Regions from separate parts of the Homo sapiens genome. Here all the other regions are reported to be linked to region 3. The links are microRNA targets in miRTarBase. Many come from high-throughput screens and were not tested one by one. Region 3 holds a microRNA gene; each other region holds the end of a gene's coding sequence.
Evidence for each region. Region 3 holds the annotated microRNA hsa-miR-101-3p (UACAGUACUGUGAUAACUGAA, at 1,118-1,138, shown strand). A microRNA usually pairs through its seed, bases 2 to 8, with sites in the 3' UTR of a target mRNA and lowers its output. Matches are read on the target gene's strand: a 7mer-m8 pairs with bases 2 to 8, a 7mer-A1 pairs with bases 2 to 7 and ends in A, and an 8mer does both.

Region 1 (4,079 bases), not on the chromosome of region 3:
TGGGATTACAGGCATAAGCCACTGCGCCCAGCCAGTAACGTTTCTTTAATAACTAGTATTAGGAGTGGGTGGGCTCTGTAAGCATGCTGTATTCATGTTTTAGTATTAATGGTATAGAACTATATACCGTTATGTGCTACAAATTAGCTTTTCAGTACCATTCCATTTTGATTTCTTTTTTCAGATTGCTACATGGATTCAACGCAGAAGGTATTCATTTTTCCTAGGTATTTGGAAAACAGAAATTTTCAAGGTCAAGAAAAGAAATGAATTTTGTATTTTTTGTATTTGAGAAGATAATGCTTTTGCTTTACTGAGACATTATTTACTTGACTATTTTTGGTTCAATACTACTACTGTTGTCACCATTTATGATTCTGAATTTTAAAGTTGGAAAGTTCTAAGTATCAAAGTTTTTAATATATAATGCTGGTCCAATCTATTCATAATAATCTTCAAGTTCAGGAGCCGCAGAGACGCACAACTTTACACTTATCATTTCTAACAGTTTATTGTATAAAGATGTTACTCTTCTATTTACTGTTATATACTGTAAGGCCTTCTTTAGGCCTTTAGCTCTGTTCCTCCAGTAATAAAAAAGTTAAAATATGCTTCACTAGTCACACATTCCCCATACCATTTCGTGTTATTCACATTCCCCGTACCATTTCTTGTTATTCACATGTACAGTAAAACAATTGTTTCTTAAATTATTTTTATTTTGGTTCTCTCATTCTCTTCCCTATTTATCCTATACAGTGTCTGTTACGATTGCCTACCTCTTTCGCTATCCTATAGCGTCAGAGACTTAGGGTTCTGGGTAAGCCCAAGTCTGCTACTGCCACCGTGCAGTGCCAGGCATATTAAAGGGCATGACTCCCAACATGTAAAATGAGGAAGCTAAACTGGAATGAAATTAACAATAAAATTATCTTTTTTTATGGTTCTTAGGGAGATAACTATAGGCTTAGCAAAATTTCAGAGGGTTTTGTAATTGAAACTGGTTTCAACTTCAGAAAAACAGCCATTTCCCATAACTACAGGTTCCCAGTATTCCTATGATTTCTGGACAATTAAAATTTCCAGTTCCTTTTTCATATACCTGGTGCTTAGTTTTAAGCTATTTTAAAACTGTCAGACTGAGAATTTCAATAGATGTCATAAACTAGTTTTATTAGCTACTATGTTTAAGTCAATATAATACTAAGTGCTGTTAATATACTATAATAGAGTTATAGTAGCTATTTTGTTTCTATAAAAAATTAATAAAAATATCTTTATTGATATTTGGCTTTTTTTAATACCTAACTTAATAGAAGAGTGTTTCCAATTAATTTAACAAAGCCAGATTTTGAAATCTGGCTTCAAAGTCATAGTAAATGTTACTACATAATTAAAATAATGCTTGTTCTTAATGTATAATCCAGAACAAAGGCATCAAGCTGCTTTTGTTAAACAAATATGAAATAATATACATTAAGAGTAGATTTTTTTGTTTAATTTCACAAAACTATTTTGCAGAGTTCACTTGTATCATCTCTATCCTTATAGTAAAAATTTTAAGATTTAACTCGGCTTTCTCAGGTTATTTCCCTCTACCCCTATGAACTGCTGAGTTTTAGTTCCTTTTCTGGCCTTCAGTTTTCACTATCTGTAAAGCTGAAGGACTGTATTATATTACCTCCAGTATCTTTTCTGGTACTAATTTTTAAAATACCTGATCAGAATGAAGCCATCATAGTGTAAGGCAGCATATTTGTCTATAAGGAGACTTTCCAAAGACAGTACCCATCCAATGCAAATAATAAATTTGAAGCTAATCATCTGTTGTGCTTTAAAATGAGCAAATTCACATGTCTTTATTGCCCTTTGAAAGTTGGTTAATCTCAAAAACTACCTTTTTTTTAAATATCCTTTGCAAGGTCAATTGTAACAGTTCTCCATCCTTCCTCTTCCCTTTGAAATAAACACAAATAGAATATATCTTACAGCTGCAAGAAAACCTGAGTCCTTTCCAAAACAAAGGTGACTGAAGTAAATTATCTCTAAAACTTATTCCATAGACTTCATTTATTAATAAGCATATTGTGAAAATCTACATTTGTTTTAGATTTCATGTTTACAGAGCTTTTCACAATTGTATTAGGATCTTTCACAACTACTCTCTGGGTTTTATGAACAGTAAAGAATCTGGCTCATGTGACCCTCTATTCATAGCTCCCCTTTGGCTCCTGTGAAGGAGCTGATAGTTCCCTGGAGTAAATAAATCAAAACAAGATATCCTTGGGAGATTTTTAGCTGTTAATCTACTCCTGGACCCCATCCTGGGAACTGAGGGAAAACTCCTAGAGAGATATACAAATCTTTGAACAAAATATTTACATGAAAAGTGGCCAGTTTTCTTCCTTGGAGTAGCAATCTGTAAAAATAAGTGCTGCTGTTTAAAAAGTAGCATGCCCTACACCATACCAATGTATTAGTGAGAATTTGGCGATTCTCACCAAACAACAATGAAGTTTCACATTTGGTACTGGATGGAGCTTGGGTTAGATCTGCCTTTTAAGGCAAAGTCAACTCTTTCAACTTAATTCTTTTTCAAGGGAGTAATGTACTGTCTACACTTGGCTTAAACTAACTTCTATTATGGACTACTTTCAATGTACATGTAAATGTTCATGCATCAGAAGCCAATTTCTTTTAACAGTACATAGAAAAGGTATATTTTGGGGTGCTAATGAACACTTCAAATTAAGTAATGATATTGGTAAGGATCAAACTGCACTATTAGTCTTGTTAATACCACACTGGCACACACACTGCATATATATGTATTTTCCTAAGATAAAACTCTTCTCAGAATTTCATTACTTTTTATTATACACCAACTAGTTTATATTGTAGTTCTTTACAAAGAAAATGCTAAGAAAAATTATAATCACATGTTATATGGTTTTAAAATAATAATTCCAGATTTCTTTACATATAAGATGGAATGGTCCAGCAGCTATATCCACTGTCACAGACTTTAGTTCCGTTCAATGATATGGCACATCCTGCAAAATTAACTAGTCACACACAAAAAATGTCTCAAATACAGTAAAAATGTACACACAAAGGTAATTTACAATGACAAGGAATGTAATTTTTCTTGGCTGTGCTTCAGAAATTTAGGGTCAGTAGCCTTAATCAAGGCACAAAGCAGGAAAAGGTGAGCACAGCTGTCTCTAGGAGTGGGCAAGGTATGTACAATCACTGATGAGGTATGCATGCACGCAAAGGATTTAAAACTGCTCAGTCTCACTACAAAAATTGAACTGAGTTAAAAGGAAATGCTGTGGCTTCCCCCTACTATCTGGCTCTGGATTGAGTCCACAGTCTTACTTCATCAAATAGAAAATAAAACTGACAAGGATCTCCAAAAGTAAATCACTATTTGTGTAAATGAAACAAAATGCTTCATTAATCCCAGTTCTTGGTTGTGCCTCCTGGACTAGAAGCATTTTGTAGACAAAAGAGTGTTTCACAAAATTGAAATGTAATTCAGGTGAAGGACAAAACATTTTCCACAGACACTTAAAATTCCAAACTTTCAAATGGCCCTTACAGCTGAACCGTTGTATGTTACAGTAGTGAGGGTTCTGGGTATCCTTTAGCAGCAAATGCCGGTTTAAAGGGCACGGGGTCTCTTCGGGTTGATTTGCTTGCTGGCTTGTTCCTCCTCTTGTAGAGCTGCACGGAAAGATTTCACTTTATCTTGGAAAAAGAAAAGAAAGAGGGAATAAGTATTGTATTACACGCAGTAAGAGTTTACAACTTTATGGGTTCAATCAAGTCAGCTGTGTTATTTCCTAACAGTAACTCAGTATTTTTCCTTTTGTTCTTTGTTGTCTAGAAACTCGGAACTAAATAGAATGCTCAACTATTGCGAAAGTTTTTTGTTACAGATTTCCAGAAATACCTGTTTTTCTGTATCTTTCAATAGCTTTCTGTTCTGTTTGGCACATTTACAGTTCTCTGTTTTAATTTATTGGAATTCCTCCTAGAGTATAGGCAGGTTTCACATTGTAAAATACATAGTC
Region 2 (4,075 bases), not on the chromosome of region 3:
AGAGGCTGGGAACCACGCAAGGAACCTGGATTCGCTCCTGCGCCTCTAGCTGCCTACCCCGCCCCAATGGTGCTCCTCCTCCTGACCAGAGAGTTGGAGAATTTCAGAAAGGGATTCTTGAAATGTGAATAGAAGGTCCTGGGCAGAGGCCCTCGTGACTTCTGTGTGAAACTGACCAGAATTAACACAGCAGAAGGTTTGCAAACTGAGCTTCAGTGTGGAATACTGCCCAGGTTTGCAGATCAGCCTCTGGGCAGCACGAGCAGGGTGGAAGAGCATTACAAAGATTCAGAAAACGAAACTGTCACAGCAACCACAGCCCACAAGAGCAGGCCAGGCTCTGCACACCAAACCTAAGCCTTAGCCACAGAAATGGGCATCGAGCCCTAATAAATATTATTTTGTTGGTTTTGGCTCCTTATTCCAACCAGTAAAAGCATGAGCTACCCTGGCTAGTTTTATGGCCACTGGAGATTTTAAAAACCTGCTCAAGACCGGACACAGTGGCTCATGCCTGTAATCCTGGCACTTTGGGAGGCCAAGGTGGGGGGATCACCTGAGGTCCGGGGTTTGAGACCAGCCTGACCAACAAGGAGAAACCCCGTCTCTACTAAAAATACAAAATTAGTTGGGCGTGGTGGCGCATGCCTGTAATCCCAGCTACTCAGAAGGCTGAGGCAGGAGACTCGCTTGAACCTGGGAGGCAGAGGTTACCGTGAGCCGAGATTGCGCGATTGCACTCCAGCCTGGGAGACAAGAGAGAAACTCCCGTCTCAAAACAAACAAACAAACAAAATAACAATAAAAAACCTGCTTAAGGTGTTAATCCAACAAATCCATGAAAAACTAGTAAGCTGTTGTAATGGCTCTGTGACCTGTGAGACAGCCATGTCTCATGCAAATGTGGCCCTGTCCGGGGTACTGACTCCGTCCCCCTTAGAGTTCCCCACCAAGGACTGTGGCTTAAGGAGGCAGATGGGGTCGGGGGATACCCATGTATTAGGCTGACTGGAAAACTGTGGGGCTTATGTGTTCCACAGCAAAGGAACATGATTCTCTGCTGTTGTTTCACTGGTCACACCTTACTTTAGGCAATGGAAATCTAGGCATTTTAAAGGTGTCGTGCACTAGATTTCTTTGTAAGACTGAAAATGCTTGGTTAGAGTAAATTAGGGACTTGAAATTCTTTAATTTTGCCTTTTTTTTTTTTTTTTTGAGACAGAGTTTTGCTCTGTTGCCCAGGCTGGAGTGCAGTGGTGGAATCTCGGCTCACTGCAACCTCTGGCTCACAGGTTCAAGAGATTCTCTTGCCTCAGCCTCCTGAGTAGCTAGGATTACAGGTGTGTGCCACCACACCCGGCTGATTTTTCTATTTTTTTTTTATTAGAGACAGGGTTTCACCATGTTGGCCAGGTTGGTCTTGAATTCCTGACCTCAAGTGATCTGCCTGCCTCGGTCTCTCAAAGTGCTGGGATTACAGGAGTGAGCCACTGCGCCCAGCCAGGACTTGAAATTCTTACAGTAAGATGTACCTGTATCCAAGGAGAAGGCTACCTGTGTGGATCCCTTTTCCTTTATGGTACTGACAACTTTTATTTTAGACTCTGGTCAGTGCACAGAAGGTGGAGATTTAAACTTGTGCTTCAAAGGCCAGCTGGAGCAGGGCCAATTAAACTTACTCCAACTGATTTCTGGGTGTGAGAGGATGCCAGAGGCTCAAAGATGGAGAGCAGGAGGGGTCGGGGTCCTCAGACTCCCATCAAAACCAAAAAGACAGGCCGGGCATGGTGGCTCACGCTTGTAATCCCTGCACTTTGGGAGGCCAAGGCAGGTCACCTGAGGTCAGGAGTTCGAGATCAGCCTGGCCAACATGGTGAAACCCTGTCTCTACTAAAAATACAAAAATTAGCTGGGCGTGGTGGTGGGCGCCTGTAATCTCAGCTACTCGGGAGGCTGAGGCAGGAGAATTGCTTGAACCTGGAAGGCAGAGGTTGCAGTGAGCCAAGATCATGCCACTGCACTCCAGCCTGGGCAACAGAGTGAGACTTTGTGTTAAAAAACCACCACAACAACAAAAAACAAAACCCAAAAAGACAGGGAAGAATGTGGGAGGCAGTTCCTAACATTCTGAAAGGGATATGAGTGATGTCCCATTTGAAAATGGGAAGCTAGGAAGAAAAATTGATCAGCTTTTCCCAAAATGGTTCACATTTCATAAAACCTTTCTGATGAGCTCAAGGAGGGACGCTATCAGATAACACAAGAGAAGGAAACAGAAGTTGTGTGCCTGATGATAAATCAACATAGTAGATATAATGACCTGTAACTATGAGGTCTGAAGAATTCTTTGAGGTCCAGGAGGGCTTTTCAGATGAGACCAGGCCTTGACAGTGGGGGCAAGTCCTACCAACCTGCACAGCACATCCAGCAGGACAACTGTGGCTCAGCAGGTGCCAAATGGAGCCCATGGGCAGAAGATGCCCACAGCGTTCCAGATGTGTGTGGTCTGAGAGATAAAAGGACACAGAACAAGATGACTGTGCAAATAGCCAAGTGGTGGCAGAAGTTCTGCATTTCCAAGAGATGATCCACTCAATAATTTGACGATACTAGTTGGCCAACATGCTCAGAGAAAACAGACTATCCACAACTGAGCCTCATTCTCTCTCAGATCAATCCATGTGCTGGAAACTATTTTCTGCACAAGCAAAATCAAATGAGAAAAAAAACAGGTCCCAAACTAAAGTAGCCAGCAAGGTTGGAAAATCTTGTCCAAAATCATCTGTGATGTGGGGGAAGTTTTATTTGTTTTATGTTTTTGCTACTACGGGTGCTTTTATTGCAACAGTGACTTCTTTCCTGTGGACTCTGAGATCTTATCAAGTCTGAACAGCAGGGTTGAGAAGAGTCCTGAATGCCGCCTGTTGCTTACCCAAGTCCCCGTGAGGCCAATCAGTGTCATCTGCTGAGGATGGAGATGGGGCCGAAGGAGCTATTCAGGGGTGAGGCAGGCCGCTCCCTGACCGAGGGGCCTCCTCCACAGCCTGCTGCCTGCCGCCTGCCGCCTCCAGCCTGGCTGAGCACATTGGACAGTCTGCTGACTCAAGGAGATGGGGAGGGGAGCTGGTGGTCTACACTGAAAAGGGGCCGGCTAAGTCAGCTTCAGTGGAGAGAGGAACAAACCAGGAAAGCCATGGAGGAGGCAGCTCAGGCTGGCTGCCCATGTGCAGAGAATGGCACACTGGCTCCGCAGACAGCAAGTGCACAGAGAGGCTGTGGGGTGTTATTATTCAGGCTTGGACTCTTCCTGCCTCCAATTCATTTCTTGCTGATGACCCGGCAGCTACATGCACGGGTTCCAACAGTCAGTCCCTCAGCCCAAGCACTCTGTGGTGCTGAGCAGCCATCAGGGTAAGCAGAGTCCGGGGCTCAGAGTCCGTTGGTGTCGATAGCTGTCACAGAAGCAGGTGTTGAGGAACGCGATGTGGTTGCCGAGGTCTTGTCGAGGGCTGGGCTGGGCACGCTGCAGTCGGCGGACCTGGCAGAGGAGCCCCTGCCTACAGGAAGCAGCGGCCGGCCCTGGCCGTGGGGGCTCTGGCCATGCAGGTTCTGACCACAGAGGCGGTGGTGCCGCTCCCAGTCCTTGTGCTGGCAGAAAGAGCCACAGTATCGCGCGATATTGCAGCCACTGCATGTCTCGCTGGCTTTGCGGCCACAGTTCCAGCAGTTCTGCAAGACACAGGCATCAGTTAGTGGTTGCTGGGATTGAGGGGCAGGCTTGCCATTCATTCCCTGCACAGTAAAGCAAGGGGCTGTATGTAGAGAACCCCAGCTTTGGAACTACATACACCTGTGGTCAACTCCGCCCTCTACTGCTGTTTAACTATGAGAAATACACACTGCCTTTCTGAGTTTCCTTCATCTGTAAAACAAGAAAACTACTTCCCTGCAAGATGACAGGAACAGTGAAATGAGATGTGTGTGTGAAAATACCTTACACAGCACCAGCCTAGGGCAGGTGGCCATCTCTCCTGCCTAAGGCATGGACTCATCTTTTGGCTCATTTTAATAGTCA
Region 3 (4,088 bases):
ATAGTCTCAACTATTACAGTTGCTCTAATTAACTGTTAGTTTAACCCTCTACAGTTAGTTGATACAATGATTACTCTTATAAGACCTGTATTCTGTTTTATTGTTGCTTGAACTTTGGATTTTGATATTATGAGTGTATGTTTCTGGTTTTTTTTTTCCTCCTCTCTTTTGTTGGCTTTCCATTTTCTGGTTTGTACAATTATTAATTTGTGTTTACAGGGTGGATGCGTAGACTCGACCAACCAAAGCCTGGCGCTACTACTCATGACCCTTGGACAGCAGGATGTTTCCAAAGTCCTGCTAGGCCCTCTCTCTCCCTACACGTAAGTTATTCTTTTTCAACCTCGTTATTCTGTCCAGTGTAATTTTCTCATTGCCCAAAATGACAAAGGGTGTTGTGCTGCACAGAGCCTGCACTATGAACACCTGCTTGTGTTTATCCTCAAATCAGCCAGCAGTTGTCACTCTTAACCTGGTGTTTATTTTTACATACAAGGATTTTTGCATTTCTTTCCTTCCTTAATCCCAGGTAACTGAAATTGCATGATCTCTATTGGGCAGTTATTTTGTTCGTGCTTTAGATTTTGTTTCCAGGTTAGAGGTAAACTCCTGGTTTGGTGTAGCTTGGATTTTATTACTAGTTTTTTTTTAATCATTCTTTTCCTTAGCTGTCTAACTTGCTGTGGGAAAACAGGCTTTTTGTCTAAGATGATAGGATATGAGCTCACTGGGAAAGATGACAAAAGACAGAGTTTGTATTAATGCTACTGGACTAGTAGGGAATTGTAGAAGTGAGTTTGGATTGTTGAATGTTAGCAGAAGTTGACTGCTGTGGTGTAAAAGCAAGCACTCTTCAAAAAGAACAGTGTCAGAAGACTTGAATTATAAATGACACTGTGAAAGAAGCATTTCCTATTGATAGTAAATGAGGTTGCGGAAAACAGCCTATTTGAGTACTGACATTGTGTGTGTGTGTTTTCACGTGCTTGCATACTTGGAGATCATCATATGGCCCATCTGAGGTTGGTGAGCTGGGTGGCAGGGAATATTCAGGTAGATATGAGACTGAACTGTCCTTTTTCGGTTATCATGGTACCGATGCTGTATATCTGAAAGGTACAGTACTGTGATAACTGAAGAATGGTGGTGCCATCACATTGAGAAAGGGTTGAGGACTGCGGTGGGGCTATGCACCCTTGGGCCATGGCGTTGGGGGCATGAAAACCAGGAGCTTGAAATAAATTCTTATGGAGGCTTTTTTTTTTCTTTTTTTTTTTTTTTTTGGAATTCGTGGTGGGAGGTTTTTTTAGAACAGGAAAATGGAAGAGAATACATTCTGTTAGCAGAGAGGGAAGACTGATAAGCAGGAAACTGGTAAGGACCACATTATCTCCTGATAGCTTGTGTAAAAGTATTTCGTAGGACAGGATACCTAAAATTGAGTAATCCTAAATGGCGTGGTAACATCAGTAGTAAACAATGCTAAAATAGACTTGGTAGTTAAGTACTTGGAGAGGAGATGAGGGCTGGAAGAATGGCACCCTAGGTACAGAGACTCGCTTCCTGTAGAGAGCTCACTGGAGGCGGCTGCCAGCTGTGTGGCCACTGTGGCCCCACCGGCTTTGTAGCTGGGCTCGTAGCTGCCGTTTCCCAGCCCTTGCTTCAGGCCTGGGGAAGTCCTGCTTGCACACACGGTATGAGGTATGGGGTGTTGTCTTGAATGTGTGTGGTCCTGGGGCATGGGGTTTGGCAGAACATTCTGTGAAAATGGAATACATATATGTTTTTTTTCGTGACACTTTTTTTCTTTTGCTTTTGGAGATTTTTCAATTTGGCTCCAGGACCTGTATGATGTTTTCAAGCTTTGCAGAGATGCTCAAGATATGACTGGACATTTTTGAAAGTTCCTGTGTCCTCTTCAACACATCTTCTCACCAAACATTAATTGTAGTGTCTTTTCTTCCAGAAAACTTGCATAAAATGACTTCCTCTCCTGTGAAAACAGTGTCCTGCTCTGAATGGAGCTTTAAAGGAGTAGCACAAATTGTAAGATGATGTATCTTGAGGCTGGGGCTTAGAGATATTCTGCTGCCTCCCAGAGCTTTGTGCAGACGGGTCTGCCAGGGTGGGAAAGGGAAGCCTCCGTTCTTTTTGGTAAGCTAGCATAAAGACAGGTAAGGGAGTCTATTTTCAAGAAAGCTGGATCTGTTTCATACTCTTTCTGCCCCTAATCACTATGGACAGCTCCAGCAGCACAAAGAGATGAAGGGCAAAGGCAGGATGCAGCAGGCAAAGTTAACATTGTATTTGTGAGTACAGTTGAGGATAAAAAAGGGATGAAATCCACGGTGAGGACCATCATGGTGGGGGAATAGTTTATTCTAATGGATTCAAGAGCTTTGGAGACCAAACTAACACATTTATTTTTATGTGTAGTTAAAGTCATAGAAACCTGTTTTGTGAAACCTCAGATTTCTAAAGAAAACCAGAAGCAAGACCTTCCTTGGTTTAAAAAAAAAAAAGCATTTCTTCAAGCAGTTTGGACCTGTTTTTCGTGTGTATAAAACAGCTTTTTAAATGTCTATGTAAAGAGCATTGGGATTGCTGTTGGTGGTTTTCTGTGCTACTTGAGAAAGTAAGTCTGTATGTGTGAAACTCTTTTTTTTTTTTTGAGACAGAGTTTCGCTCTGTCGCCCAGGCTAGAGGGCAGAGGCGCAATCTCCGCCCACTGCAAGCTCCGCCTCCCGGGTTCAACGCCATTCTCCTACCTCAGCCTCCCGAGTAGCTGGGACTACAGGCACCCGCCACCGTGCCTGGCTAATTTTTTGTATTTTTAGTAGAGACGGGGTTTCACCATGTTAGCCAGGATGGTCTCGATCTCCTGACCTCGTGGTCCACCCGCCTTGGCCTCCCAAAGTGCTGGGATTGCAGGCCTGAGCCACCAAGTCCGGCCAATGTGAAACTCTTTTAGAAAGGCCCAAGAGATTTTTTTTCAGTAGAATAAAATACTGTTGGATAATCACTGGTATATGAAGATTCTATTTCTGTTAAATTTGTTGAGTTTTAGGTGGCTTACAGTTAGTGACAGTAGTTGCACCCTCCATTCAACAAGCTTAATTTTACAGTTTAGGGAGGGAGGATTTATACTTTTGGATTAACAGCAAGAAAAATAGCAAAAATTAAGATGCATCTTAATTAGCACTTTCAGAAATTATTTGTGGAATGAGACTGCAGTTACCAGAGCTCTCTGCATTCTGCCAGTGCACAAGTCTTGGAGTCCAGCCTATCTGGACTTAAGGCTCTACCACGCGCTACCAGGAGACCGTGGAAATGGTATTTAGCATCTTGGAGCCTTGGTGTCATTTGTAGATAAGGTGCGTGGTCCTGAAGTCCTGGACTTGTGGAGATGGAACGAAGCTTAGATTAAGTCAGATGCTTAGTGCTCCTGGCAACGTGCCTGAGGAGCTGTCAGTGCTGGGTGCTGTGGTTCCTGCCTGGACACCCCTTCACCCTGCTGCAGTCCAGTCCCTTGGTCAGGTCACTTTTTTTTTTTTTTAACTGCTCCTTGAGGAGCAGGACTACCCCAGAGGCAGTGTGGCTAGAGTAGCCCGGTCAGGTCACTTTGAACCCCAGGAGGCCTAGTAAACTTGCTTTGGGTGATTTTAGGGTTTAAGTCATCTGTAAGTGGTCTGCCCAGCTACCTATAAATCTATATCCATTAATTTTAAATTATGGATTAAAAAATTTTAATTTCTAGTTATTATTTTTATGACTGACTTCCCCTAGTCACATTACTGAGCAAACTACACACATCTTATTGATCCTAAGAATTCTGTAAGGTAGATGTTTATTTAAACAACACCGTGTTTACTGTGTGCAAGATGTTGTTTTAAGCACTCAGACATAATAACTTATCTGGTTTTCATCATAACTTCATAAGGGCAAAAAAGGCAAGTACTATCATGTGCACCGTCTTACAGGTGATGGGATTGAGGCACAGCGAGGTCAAGTTACGTGCCCAGGGTCACACAGACAGTAAGTGGGGTTCAGACCTGGACAGTCTCCTCCAGTCACTGCTTCCCTTACCC
Region 4 (4,088 bases), not on the chromosome of region 3:
TAGAAATGTGCTACAGTTTACTGAAGAAAAAGAAGCTTTTATCTCTGAAGAGGAGATTGCAAAATACATGAAGCGTGGAAAAGGAAAGTATTATTGCAAAATTTGTTGCTGTCGTGCTATGAAAAAAGGTGCTGTTTTGCATCATTTGGTTAATAAGCATAATGTTCATAGCCCTTACAAATGCACAATCTGTGGAAAGGCTTTTCTTTTGGAATCTCTCCTTAAAAATCATGTAGCAGCCCATGGGCAAAGTTTACTTAAATGTCCACGTTGTAATTTTGAATCAAATTTCCCAAGAGGTTTTAAGAAACATTTAACTCATTGTCAAAGCCGGCATAATGAAGAGGCAAATAAAAAGCTAATGGAAGCTCTTGAACCGCCACTGGAGGAGCAGCAAATTTGATAACACAGTGTGAATATTTGTTCTACAAAGGTGTTTGTTGGAACCATTCTTTGTAAGTATAGCTTATCAGATAGCATAGTTGGATCAGTAGATGACATGTATGGTGTACCGTGTTTCACTGTCTCAGTTGTGTTACTAAGAATGAGCATTTGATCATTTTTTTCTGGTCTCTGTCTATGTGACTATCTTGTAAGTCAATAAATTTCTGTATAGTCCAGATGGATTAAACTTCTCATTTCTTTTAAATATGTATGAATAATAATACAAGGAAGTAGGCATTCCATTTAATAATCAAGAGCAAGTTGTACTCAAAGCATTCAGTTAAAGTGTATCTGTGTGTGGAACTAATTTCAGACAATAGAAAATATTAGTTGAAATGTTTAAGAATTAGGCATGAAAAATAAATTTGAGAAATTTTGTTTCCTTACATGTATTTTTAAATCATAAGAGTTATTTTCTATCTGATGTAAAATTAGTTTATAAATCTTAATCAGCTTCTAGATGTTTATTAGCTTTTATGTCATGAAATGTTGGAGTCTCAGGGTTGCTGATTTTCTGCTAATGGGAAAAATTGACTAAGTCTTTAAAATAGTTTGCAGCCTTCTCCCACAGGAGACAAGTGAAAGATAAGTGTGATTTTAGATCTTTCTTGTCCATAGTTGTTTTCAGTGGAGTCTTCCATTCTGTATCTTACCCTAAGATCTGGTTCTTCCCTCCCCATCCCCACCCCCCACCCACCGCCTGCCAGCTCACACTAATAGATGATTCTTAATTGCCAAATGTGTTAGAGTTTGTATATCCTACTCCTGGGCCTTACATGTCGCCTGTTGGGGCTTAAGACCAGGTTGATAAGTAGGAACTGAAAGTCTTCCAGATTCACAGTAGAAAATTTTATAGACATTTCTGTTAAAGAAATATATCGATTTTATGTTTTTCAATTATGTTACTGTAAATACCTTGTACCTGTTCATGGATTATTTTATTCTAAAATATTTTGTCAAATGTGTATCAACCAAATTAAAAAGAAAGGTTTTCATGTCAGCAACATCTTCATGTGTGTTTTCTTTTGTGTAGTTTTCATTGTATGATATACAGATCCATTATTTCCATGTTTTCAACATAGTTTTCTTATCTGGAGCAGCATTTTCTTAGCTGTGTTTTCTCCAAGTTCTGTGGTCAAGTAAGTTAGGGGAATGCGTGTATAGGGAGGACTCTGTGTCAAAAACCTCATCCTTTCATATGAAAGGTTTTTTAATTCCAGTGGTTGCCTATCCTGCCTGCCTCTAAACAGTGTGAGGCATTTAATCTCAAAGCATTCTGATGTGTAGCCAGGATTGAGATGCTGTACTGGGTTTATTTTAGCTATTCCCAGACATTTTTTTAACAAGGAACAGTTTTGTCCTAGTTCCCCACCCGCTGGCTTCCCTATTAATATGCCCGTTGGGATAGCTTAACAATATTTAGTAATATGGTTTGGCTCTGTGTCCACACTCAAATCTCTCTCTTTTTATTTTTGTTTTTTATTTTGAGACCGATCCTTGCTGTGTCACCCAGGTTGCTGTGCCGTGGTGTGATCTTGGCTCACTGCAGTCTCTGCCTTTCAGATTCAAGGGAGTCTCGTGCCTCAGCCTCCTGAGTAGCTGGGACTACATGTGTGTGCCACCACATCTAGCTAATTTTTGTAGTTTAATAGAGATGGGGTTTTGCCATGTTGGCCAGGCTGGTCTCGAACTCTTGGGCTCAAGTGATCCACCTGCCTCACTTGAGGGAGTGCTGGGATTACAGCTGTGGGCCACCACACCTGACCCCCACCCAAATGTCATATTGAATTGTAATCCCCAGTGTTGGAGGAGGGGCCAGCCTGGTGAGAAGTGATTGGATCATGGGGGTGGACTTCCCCTTGCTGTTCTCGTGATAGTGTGTGAGTTATTTAAAAGTGTTTAGCCCCTCCCCTTCGCTCTGTTCCTCCTGCTCCAGCCATGTTGGATATGCCAGCTTCCCCTTCACCTTCTGCCGTGATTGTAAGTTTCCAGAGCCGCCCTGCCTCCTGCCCCAGCTGTGTTTCCTCTGCAGCGTGTGGAACCATTAGCTAATTAAACCTCTTTTGTTTATGAATTACCCGGTCTCAGGTCTTTGCAGCAGTGTAAGAACAGAGTAATACATTTAGATAATACCAAGTAAGGTCTTAGAAGCCTCAGATCTGTTAACTTCGGTGAACACAGCACTGAGTAGCTGCTGCTATCAATTTACGTGGCACCTTGAGAACGAGCTTCCAGATCAGGAGTTCCCTTCTAGGCAGTGATGCCAACAAATAGGACAGGTAAGATATCTTGGATATACTAGTTGTCCTTTTCTTGTCGATACTGACTGACTGAAGTTGTTTTTGAGAAACAAAAAGGGTCTGCATTACCTAGAAACTCTCCTGGCTCCTGCAGTCTCAGACCAACCCTGTTACACAGATTCTTTTCTAAGACTTCACCCTGTCTGGTGCAAACCTGGCAGTTCATCCTAGACCTTTGCTCCAGGTGGCACCAACTAAGTCACATGACTTGCCATCTGATTTGGGGTTTTTTATAATAGTGCCATAGGATAAGAGTTAATTGCCTGGGTAAGTGGTAGTGATGCATGTGTAGTTTTGGCTTTTAAGGACTTTATTTGGCTAAACCCCTGTGTTGTTGGTTTACCTTACTGGCTTCCACTCTTTCTTTTTTTCTGTTTTTGAGACTGAGTTTTGCTCTTGTCTCCCAGGCTGGAGTGCAGTGGCGTGATCTCAGCTCACCACAAACTCTGCCTCCCGGGTTCAAGCGATTCTCCTGTCTCAGCCTCCCAAGTAGCTGAGATTACAGGCGCCTGCCACCACACCCAGCTAATTTTTGTATTTTTAGTAGAGACAGGGTTTTACTATTTTGGCCAGGCTGTTCTTGAACTCCTGACCTCAGGTGATCCACCCACCTTGGCCTCCCAAAGTGGAGGATGGAGACGTATTTAAAAGCACTGAGCACAAAGGAGGCACTCAATCCATGGTGGTAATTATTATTCTAACCTTATTAGCCCCCTGCCGATTCAATGTATACCATTCACTAGTTTGTTTAAATAATTTGTGAATCAGTTTATATTTTCAAGTTGCCATATGTTTTAGGGTTCTCCGGAGAGTCAGAACCAATAGGATATATATATGGTATAGAATGGTAACCAGCACTCTACACTCTGTTTTTATGAGTCTGACTTTTCTAGATTCCACATACAAGTGAGATTATGCAGTATTTGTCTTTCTGTGTCTGGTTTATTTTACTTAACATAATGTCCTTCAAATTCATCCCTGTTGCCATAAGTGGCAGGATTTTCTTCTTTTCAGGCTGAATAGTATTTCATTGTGTGTGTGTGTATATATATACACACAATTTGCTAAGCAGGGAGATCCGCAGACCCTCTTGGCTCCCAGCATGCTGGGGTCAGGTTTGCAGTCTTAGGAGATCGGTGAACTCTTTTTGGAGAGGATCTGCAAATACCAACAGTTTCAGGGTTTCCTCAGGTCCAGGAGTGCCAGGCTCCTGTGCACTCTTCCTTTGGGGAAGCAAAGGAAGACTCCATCAGTGCACACAGAATGCATTAATTATACTTTCTTATTTTCTGTTTTCTTCATGCTCTAGCATCTGGGGTTTACTGGGAAAAGATTGCCTTTTCC
Region 5 (4,088 bases), not on the chromosome of region 3:
ACACGTGTCCGCGCTGTGCAGCGGGGCCGGCGGCGGGGGCGGCAGCGGGCCGGCAGGCGTCGCGGAGGAGGAGGAGGAGCCGGCGGCGCCCAAGCCACGCAAGAAGCGCTCGCGGGCCGCTTTCTCCCACGCGCAGGTCTTCGAGCTGGAGCGCCGCTTTAACCACCAGCGCTACCTGTCCGGGCCCGAGCGCGCAGACCTGGCCGCGTCGCTGAAGCTCACCGAGACGCAGGTGAAAATCTGGTTCCAGAACCGTCGCTACAAGACAAAGCGCCGGCAGATGGCAGCCGACCTGCTGGCCTCGGCGCCCGCCGCCAAGAAGGTGGCCGTAAAGGTGCTGGTGCGCGACGACCAGAGACAATACCTGCCCGGCGAAGTGCTGCGGCCACCCTCGCTTCTGCCACTGCAGCCCTCCTACTATTACCCGTACTACTGCCTCCCAGGCTGGGCGCTCTCCACCTGCGCAGCTGCCGCAGGCACCCAGTGAACCCGCTTGGGCTGAGGCAGCGAGTGATTCCCGCGCTCCGGCTCCGGACCGGCGCTGACAGCTGTAGGCTGTAGCCTGCACGGGGCGCCCCGCCAAGGAGGCACCTGGAGGTGAAACCCAGCTCCAGCTCCCGTTAGCCAGGACTTGTCCCCTGGCAGCTGGGCTGAGTCTGCCCTGAGGGGGCGCCTTTTTCTAATTTGAACAGAGGCACCCTATGGCCTAGGGGCCCTGATCGCCCACCTGCCTGGAAGCCCCTGGGCTCTATTTATTATCATGACAATGTTGGAATTAAATTTTGATTCGAATATGTCTGCCTGGGGGTGGGGTTTTCCCTGAGCGGCAACTCCTGGAGACCACATAGCCTGAATCCTCAGAATTTCAGGCCTGCTGGGAGCTTTCTGCACTAGGCCACACTAGTTCATGGTATCCATGCTACCAATCTATGTGTATCTACATATCTTTTATTTTTGGAAATTGCATTTGTAACCAAGGGGTGCGAAACCCTGGCAGTCCCAGGCAGCACCAGGCCAGGGGTTGATTTGAAACGTGAAGGATTGGGTTTTCAGGCCCTCTGCTCCACCCCTCCTGTGTGTCAGAGCTAGGGTGGGGGTGCCCGATTCGGGTGCTGAATGTAAGGAGGGGAGCCTCCAAGTGTGGTGCAAGCCGGGGGTCTCCACATCTTCCTTCTCTGAAGTCCAGGTACCTGCACAAGCAGGAAGCGCCTGGGAGTCCCGGAAGGAGGAGAGCGCACACCCAGGCAGCCCTCTGCGGAAACTTTCCTTGGTTTCTTTTTATTTGTGTAAAGGAGGTTAAGACGTGTCGCACTTTTCAGTTGTTTGTATTCAAATGACGATTATTTTTCTACTCAATGTGAATATCCCTGGCCAGCCTTTCCACGGCGCCCACCGCAGTGCCGCTGCCTGGCCCTCAGTGTCTACCTTCTGCCCTCTGCGACTCCAGTGCTCTGGCCCGGGACTCCCCTATCCGCCCCTCACTTACCCTTAAACAGGTGATCCCACCTGTCTTGTCAACCTCGCCGCTTTTCGCCTCCTTAATGGCACTGTGCACTCAACTAGAGTATTAACTGTAAAAAGATTTGTGAAGTTTGGAAGCTCTATTCGCTGTATTTTTTCTTTAATTTATAAACTTTTAGTTTAACATGCCCTCCTGGACGCCGCGTTTTCTCTGAAACTGTCTTTTCCCGACTTTTGGGGAACCAGTAAGGCGAGCTGGAAATAGCTGGGGCTTTTTCCAACCTCCTTTTAGTCTCGGACCAAGGATGCTTAGTCTCTCCTGGGAGCAGCCCTGCTGCCCGCCCACTCCTCAGGCAGGTTATAAACCTGGGCAGCTCAGAAAAATCATGACTTCGGGGGCTTTGCAGGAGTAATGGATGAATCCCACTGAAACCGGGAACAAATTCCTAGGATTTCTCCCCATCCTCCCTGTGAGCATTGGTTTCAGAGCCTAGTAAGAGTCCATGGTTGAACCCCCAGCCAATGTCCATCCCCCATCCCAATGTACCGACCCTTTCATCTCCCCTCACCCCACCCCACCCTGTTCTCTGCTTTCGATTTTAGGAGCGTTTCTCTACCTTATCTAGTGTTTAGTTTTGAGAGTGGTTTAGTGAAAACTCCCGCTAAAATTCTGAAGCGATTAGTTGCAAACCAGGCGTGAATAACCTGTCTCTCGGAGAAGGGTCACCCGAGCGTTTTCCTCGGACGGGTGCAATTGGGGCTCTACAAGGTTTCAAAGCGCTTCCCCGCACTCAATGAAAGGGCGTCATTTGGTACACACCGAAGCCCACCCGGGGAGCAGAGAATGGGCAGGGCACCGTTATTTATTACCCCATTTTACAGATGATCATACGCAGCTGGCGCTCCCAGACTCCCCAGAATGCTACGGATTCACTGGAGCTAAATGCTCACTTTCACTGGCAGCTCAAGCCGAGTTCCCGGCGAGCAAGGAAGAGTTAATGCCACATTGCGGGCGTTGAGGCCTCCAGTCCGCTGGACCCGAGTCGGGAAACACCAAAACCCTGGCCAAGGCTTCTTTCAATTTCACCTGGGGCCGAAAGGTCGATTAGCTCTCCAAGGCAACCGCGACTTTTCCCAGCCCCCGGGCCTCCAAGCTTTGGTACCCTAAAGGCCTTGGCCTGGGGTCCCTCAAGCCCTCGGATCTGGCCCGGGCGGAGCGTGGTGACCAGCGTTTTACAAAATTATCCCCGCTTCCAGAAACAGCAAAATGTAAAGGGAGAAGCAAAGGCCCTCGGGATATGCACACTCCCACCCGGTCCCCCACTGGAGTCCAACTACCTTCCATATGGTTCTTGCAATCATCTCGTTTCTTTATAAATGCAATCATCTCGTTTCTTTATAAAATGCTTTACAGTTCTATTTAAATTATACAATTAATCATGACTGTGTTTTTCTTGTAGAGAGTTGGAACATTTCCGATAATACTAGAATCTCCTCCCTTCTTCTCCCCAGGGATCACTACTTACTGAGGGGTTTTTTAGGAGGAGGGATTTTCTCCCTTTCTGAAAAGGCAGTTGCTTGTTGCTGCGTCTTAAGAGGGTAGTTTGTTCTCCATCTTTGCCGATTGGGCGGTGAAAGAATCCGGGAGTTTCTTTAGAGTAGGAAAAGCCACAGAGGTCCCGGTCGCACCCCTGGCGGCTCCATCTTCCACCGCAGACTCCACCTACCCTGCGGACCCGGGCGCCCCTTCCCTTTCTCTCCCACTCTCGGGCCCCCTGCCTGGGCCAGCTCCGCGGACTGGCTCCGGCTGCCCGGGGAAAATGACTCAAATGAATTCAGTTTGATCCAGATTATGGCTGTTTCCCTCCAAGCTGTCCCGCGGTTTGCCTTGGCGAGAATGCCCTGAGGTCTGATTCTGGGAGCTGGAGGCGACCTCTGGGTCCAGCCTGTCCTCCAAGGAGTTCTCGCCGTATTTTGCGACCCAGACCAATGTCTTTACCTGGGTCTTCTGCCGCAGACGCGGCTCCCGTTGAAAATTTGCAGTATTACTTTCTTCCTTTTCTTTACTTTCTCCTCTATCTTCTCTCCGCCTTTCTCTCTTTTTTCTTTCTTTTTTCTTTTTTTTGGAAAGATGAAGAACAGTCCTGCTCCCTACTCGAGGGTATCTCTGTTCACCCACTGCCTGCATCCCTGTGCTGCGCTGAGCCCTCTCGGCCTTCTCTGGGCTTGGTCCCCGGAGCAGTAGCAACTGCCGCCTGGGCCCAATGAACCTTGGGCCTCTTCATCGTTCTCAGTCCCTTTGGCGCTTAGCGAATCTTAGAACTTGGCCTTGGGGATTTTCGAATTAGATCCACCCACTCTACAGATGGGTAAACCAAGGCGAGGGGAATGGCTGGTAAAGGGGGCGGAACATCATGTCACTTGCACTGAAATTGGTCCCAAGGATTCAGGCCGAGCCCACAAATCTTACTCCTAGCAGCAAATTTGGGATCAACCAGCTGCCAAATGTAGCTGGTGGGTCTGCGTGTGTGTATGTGTGTGCGCATGCGTGTGTGTGAGAGAGAAAGAGAGAAAGAGAAAGAAAGAAAAAGAAAGAAAGAAAGAAAGAAAGAAAGAAAGAAAGAAAG
Region 6 (4,088 bases), not on the chromosome of region 3:
CACAATCTACAATGCCCGGCCAGCCCACCCTGATGAGCAATCCAGCTGCTGCCGTGGGCATGATTCCTGGCAAGGATCGGGGGCCTGCCGGGCTCTACACCCACCCTGGGCCTGTGGGCTCTCCAGGCATGATGATGTCCATGCAGGGCATGATGGGACCCCAACAGAACATCATGATCCCCCCACAGATGAGGCCCCGGGGCATGGCTGCTGACGTGGGCATGGGTGGATTTAGCCAAGGACCTGGCAACCCAGGAAACATGATGTTTTAAGCTGCTAAGATGGGATGTGCCGATCCTTGTCAAGATGAGATTCCAGGTCCTGAGAGCTGCTTTGAGGGAGTTCCAGGAGTACTTACTATTGGTCATGCAATAGGAGAACAGAGACCCGAGGGCTGCTTTGGGGGAGGGGGGAACTCGAGAATGTATGGATTTACCTGAAAACAAATTATTCATTTAATCAACAGGTGTGTTTTTTTTAAGATTTATTTTTTAAAAATTATTTTTGTGGACTTGGGTATCAATGATGGCACCTACTTTTGGGAATCTGTAGCTGTGCTTTGAGAATTGCCATCGGTCATGTGTTGCACCGTTCTCTGTATGTTTACGTCCTTTGGACTGGCTTCTCCCAGGATTCTTTTCTGTTTTTGTTTTTTTGATTTGGGCTTTATTTTTTTCTGTGTACTGTACTATATTGTAAAAGGGATTTTAGCAGAGACTTTAGTCTTTGGGGCAAGAGGAGAACAGGAATGCTGGGCTGTTTACTTTAGGTGGAGAATCCATCTTCAGACCTTTGGACTATTTTCTTTCAACTGCAGTGTATAGAAAAACCAAACTACGACCTCAGAGCAGAGTATTAATGAAAAGCACAAAAAAAGGAACTAAGTTCAGCGAGGGGTGGGGGGAGGGGGGAGATTTTTCTTTTGAAAAATAATGACTCTTAGGACATTTGTTTTTCAGTTCAAGTGCTCTTCAGCACTGTCTTGTCTCCCAATATACCAACCCACTGGCACATTTTTCTCTTGTTTTCTCTCTCCGATTTTGCTCTGTCTCCTCAGTTAAGTGTTTCCTTCCTTTGTGCCCCCCGCTGGTGACCCTCTGCTTCCCTCTCTCTTTCCCTTTGGCAGCTGCAATACACAGTGTTATTTTGGGGAAATAAATCTAGCAAAGCCTCGCCTTCCATGCCGAGCGTCCTCTTGGCTCTGAGAGGGAAAGGTCTGTCCTTGGGATGCTCTCTGGTCTTTTTTCCCCCTAAGTCTTTCTCTTTCCCATCATACCCTTCCCTGCCCACCTTGTTTTCTGTTCTCCTTTTATTAGGAATTCCCAAGTGAATTTTATTAATGTGGGAGTGGAACAGATGCTAAAAGCTATCCAGGATTTTGTTTCTGTTTGTTTTAAATTTTGTGGTTCCTTCCCTTTCCTCCCCCTCCCATGCGTAAGACGTTCTGTGTAACCTCCATTAAATTTGGTACAAAACCACTCGCCAGAGCTGTGGTGTCAGAAAAATAAAATATATTGTTTCTTACAAAATTGAACTGCCTTTTTTGTTCATTTGGATTCCTGATTGTTTAGTATTGGGCATACCGGTTGCCATGTGACCCAGAAGCGTAGACTCTTTGTATTGGAGTTGATCAGTAAGGTGATGGTTAGGGAAACCACATAAAAGTACCTTCTCAAAGCATATTCCATGCTGTTAAGGAATAACTACTCATGTAGGTTTATTCTGTACTGTTCCTATCTCAGTCATGAAATCCTAGTTATAAGCAGAAGAGCAACCCTGGTCCCATTGCTGAACTTTACCTTTAGGGCAATTAATGGTCTTTATTAGGAATGTTTGTGAGAGCCAGTTTAGTGGTATGAAGTAATTAAGAAGGCCAAAGGTTGTATGTTTAGTTATTTGAATAAGCTATGAGATGTCCCTTGGTCTTGTTAAGGTAGAATATTATTACTATACCTGCAAATTATGGGTTTCCACAGTCCGTGGGTTTCTGTGGTCCTTTCTGGCTCCCCACCTCCCCCTTACCCCATCACCTCTGCTAACGCTGCTCAGTCTTTGTGCACAGTTCACTTCTCACCACACACATCTTCAGCAGATCAGTGTGTATCCTGCAAGGTATGTGCTAATGGACTTGCTGTTGTGCTTCTGTGCAGTTAATTCTGTTCTGGTGTGTGTATTTCTTTGAGTTGTAGGTGTTTTTAGCTCAGTGAGTGGGCGTCTGTGTGCGTGTTTGTTCTTAGGTGAGAGAATCTAAGCGAGGAGCGGCAGGTGCAGAGTCATCTGCAAACAAACTTGTACAAATTGGGCTCTGCTGGTGTTTCACAGTCTGAGCTTTTCTCTCCGACAATTGTTTTGGAGAGCCATTTTCTCTTCCTTTTCAGCAGCCCTGTCTTCTCAGTAACACAAGTGCCCCAGACAACAAAAAATGTGGAGATGAACATTTGAGTACCTACTCTACCAGTCGCCTCCCTGCACTTTATCTTGCTGATTTTTAAGGGGCCCTGTGAAGTGAGTGGTAATGATCTCATTTGCAGATGAGAAAACTTGAGCTCACAAGTTTAAGAATTCTGATTCAATCTGATGTATTCTGTTGGTGCTGGGTAGTGAAACTTTCATGTTGTAGAGAAATTAGGATAGTAAAATGAAGATTTTGTTTCACGAACTTAGCCATGTTTCTGGGTTCTCTGGCTTTAAAGTATATAGATGAGAACAGACTAACAGCCAAGCATGGGCAGCACAAGATGAGAACCTGAAGGAAGGGTCCCACCTGGCATTTGTCTACTGGTCTGGCTTCTTGGGTTGCTCCCCTCCTTGCTGTACCCAACAGTGTTGCAGTCACTAATGGTGTGTGGTCCTGTTGTTACTCTCACAGGCAGGGAGTCAAGGCATAAAAGGTACCCACATAGGAGAGCAGGTACTCACTTAGAGGGCTAGCAAGAGACCGGTGGGTCTGGCTGCTGTGGGCAGCTGGATGTGTGGCACTCCTCTCGCAGCCCCCTGCTGGAGAACTTGGGGCAGTGCAGATCAACTTCCCCACCTGAGTTTTTAAAATACCCCATCATACAACTTCATTCACTTTATCAGCACATGCCATTTCATCACGATAATGTCTGACAAGCCAAATTTAGGGTCTAAATACAACAATTTATCATTTACTAAGATTGTTATAAAATAAAATTACCTTTAGAGAGACTGGATGCTAGTGCATGGAGAACTGATGCAAGATTTTTTAAAAATCAGTGGAAGAGTGATGAAAGATGTTTCATATTAACATATTCCTGTGAAAGCCCAGCCAATCTTCTCTCTTTCCTCTCCTGAAGTTTGGGACTGAATGGAGAAAATGCAGTAGTGACTTGTTCACTTCAGGGGAAAGTGGTGGAGTGTGTGTGGCTCATAGCATTTGTTAAGGACTAACTAGAAGTATGTAGCATTTTCCCTGAAACAATGTAAAATAAAATAATTTACTTTAGAAACGATTCTGCACTTATACATGAAAACAGACATAATTATAGGGGTCTTATGAAGGAGGCGGCATGAGAAAATAAATTGAAAACAATTTTACATATTTAAAGCTACTCCTTAAAAAATGGATCCAACATTTCTCCCAGCCTCCCTGCGCTCTATACTTCTTGATATTATCATCACAACGCAACTGTGGTCATCTGTGCCACCTGTGCAGTTGGACAGGACTCCGGCTTGGTTTAATGCTCCGCTGTCACTGTTTGGAGTTCTTAATTATTGAATAGGGGCTCCACATTTCCATTTCGCCCTGGGTCCCACAGATTGCTTAGCCAGGCTGTTGTAAACAGAAATCACAACAGCTCCACAGAGGTGCTGGGACCTCAGTCTCCATATTTATTCTTTCTCCTTAACTAGTGGCCAGGAGCACCTCAGGCAGGGTACTTGCTGTGTTCCGCTTAAACTGTCTACACTTCAGTCATTTCCTTTTCCTTTTCTGAGTAATTTCAGGGTGCTGAAAGGAGAGGGAAGTTGCATTTTAACCCGAGGACTCATTATTTAGCAAATATTTATAGAGCACCTACTGTGTATCAAGAACTGTGCAAAGGCTGGGATGTGGAAACAGGTGTGTA

Region 1: miRTarBase lists DIMT1 as a target of hsa-miR-101-3p. Seed matches in the 3' UTR shown: 7mer-A1 at 549-555.
Region 2: miRTarBase lists CBFA2T2 as a target of hsa-miR-101-3p. Seed matches in the 3' UTR shown: 7mer-A1 at 1,518-1,524.
Region 4: miRTarBase lists CHAMP1 as a target of hsa-miR-101-3p. Seed matches in the 3' UTR shown: 7mer-A1 at 1,348-1,354.
Region 5: miRTarBase lists NKX3-2 as a target of hsa-miR-101-3p. The part of its 3' UTR that is shown has no 7-base or 8-base seed match.
Region 6: the mRNA of BCL9 is a reported target of hsa-miR-101-3p. Seed matches in the 3' UTR shown: 8mer at 681-688.

The regions. Positions count from the first base shown.
Region 1 is chr5:62,385,158-62,389,236 of GRCh38, reverse strand. It overlaps DIMT1 (DIM1 rRNA methyltransferase and ribosome maturation factor), which reads left to right. Exons shown (of 12, transcript NM_014473.4): 12 at 185-1,983. The coding sequence ends at 227. KIF2A (kinesin family member 2A) reads right to left here. Exons shown (of 21, transcript NM_001098511.3): 21 at 1-3,753. The coding sequence ends at 3,668. Among named protein-coding and RNA genes, the nearest start is that of DIMT1, 17 kb to the left of the region's middle.
Region 2 is chr20:33,644,001-33,648,075 of GRCh38, reverse strand. CBFA2T2 (CBFA2/RUNX1 partner transcriptional co-repressor 2) reads right to left here. Exons shown (of 11, transcript NM_001032999.3): 11 at 1-3,729. The coding sequence ends at 3,430. Among named protein-coding and RNA genes, the nearest start is that of C20orf144, 16 kb to the left of the region's middle.
Region 3 is chr9:4,849,228-4,853,315 of GRCh38, forward strand. It overlaps MIR101-2 (microRNA 101-2), which reads left to right and starts at 1,070; the gene lies at 1,070-1,148. RCL1 (RNA terminal phosphate cyclase like 1) reads left to right here. Exons shown (of 9, transcript NM_005772.5): 8 at 220-323. LOC124902113 (a long non-coding RNA gene) reads left to right here and starts at 1,140. Exons shown (of 2, transcript XR_007061402.1): 1 at 1,140-4,035.
Region 4 is chr13:114,325,879-114,329,966 of GRCh38, forward strand. CHAMP1 (chromosome alignment maintaining phosphoprotein 1) reads left to right here. Exons shown (of 3, transcript NM_032436.4): 3 at 1-1,444. The coding sequence ends at 403. It overlaps LINC01054 (long intergenic non-protein coding RNA 1054), which reads right to left. Exons shown (of 3, transcript NR_126391.1): 3 at 3,879-3,967. Among named protein-coding and RNA genes, the nearest start is that of LINC01054, 6.0 kb to the right of the region's middle.
Region 5 is chr4:13,538,392-13,542,479 of GRCh38, reverse strand. NKX3-2 (NK3 homeobox 2) reads left to right here. Exons shown (of 2, transcript NM_001189.4): 2 at 1-1,650. The coding sequence ends at 487. Among named protein-coding and RNA genes, the nearest start is that of NKX3-2, 4.1 kb to the left of the region's middle. RefSeq lists a silencer at 47-176.
Region 6 is chr1:147,624,688-147,628,775 of GRCh38, forward strand. It overlaps BCL9 (BCL9 transcription coactivator), which reads left to right. Exons shown (of 10, transcript NM_004326.4): 10 at 1-1,529. The coding sequence ends at 272. Among named protein-coding and RNA genes, the nearest start is that of ACP6, 44 kb to the right of the region's middle.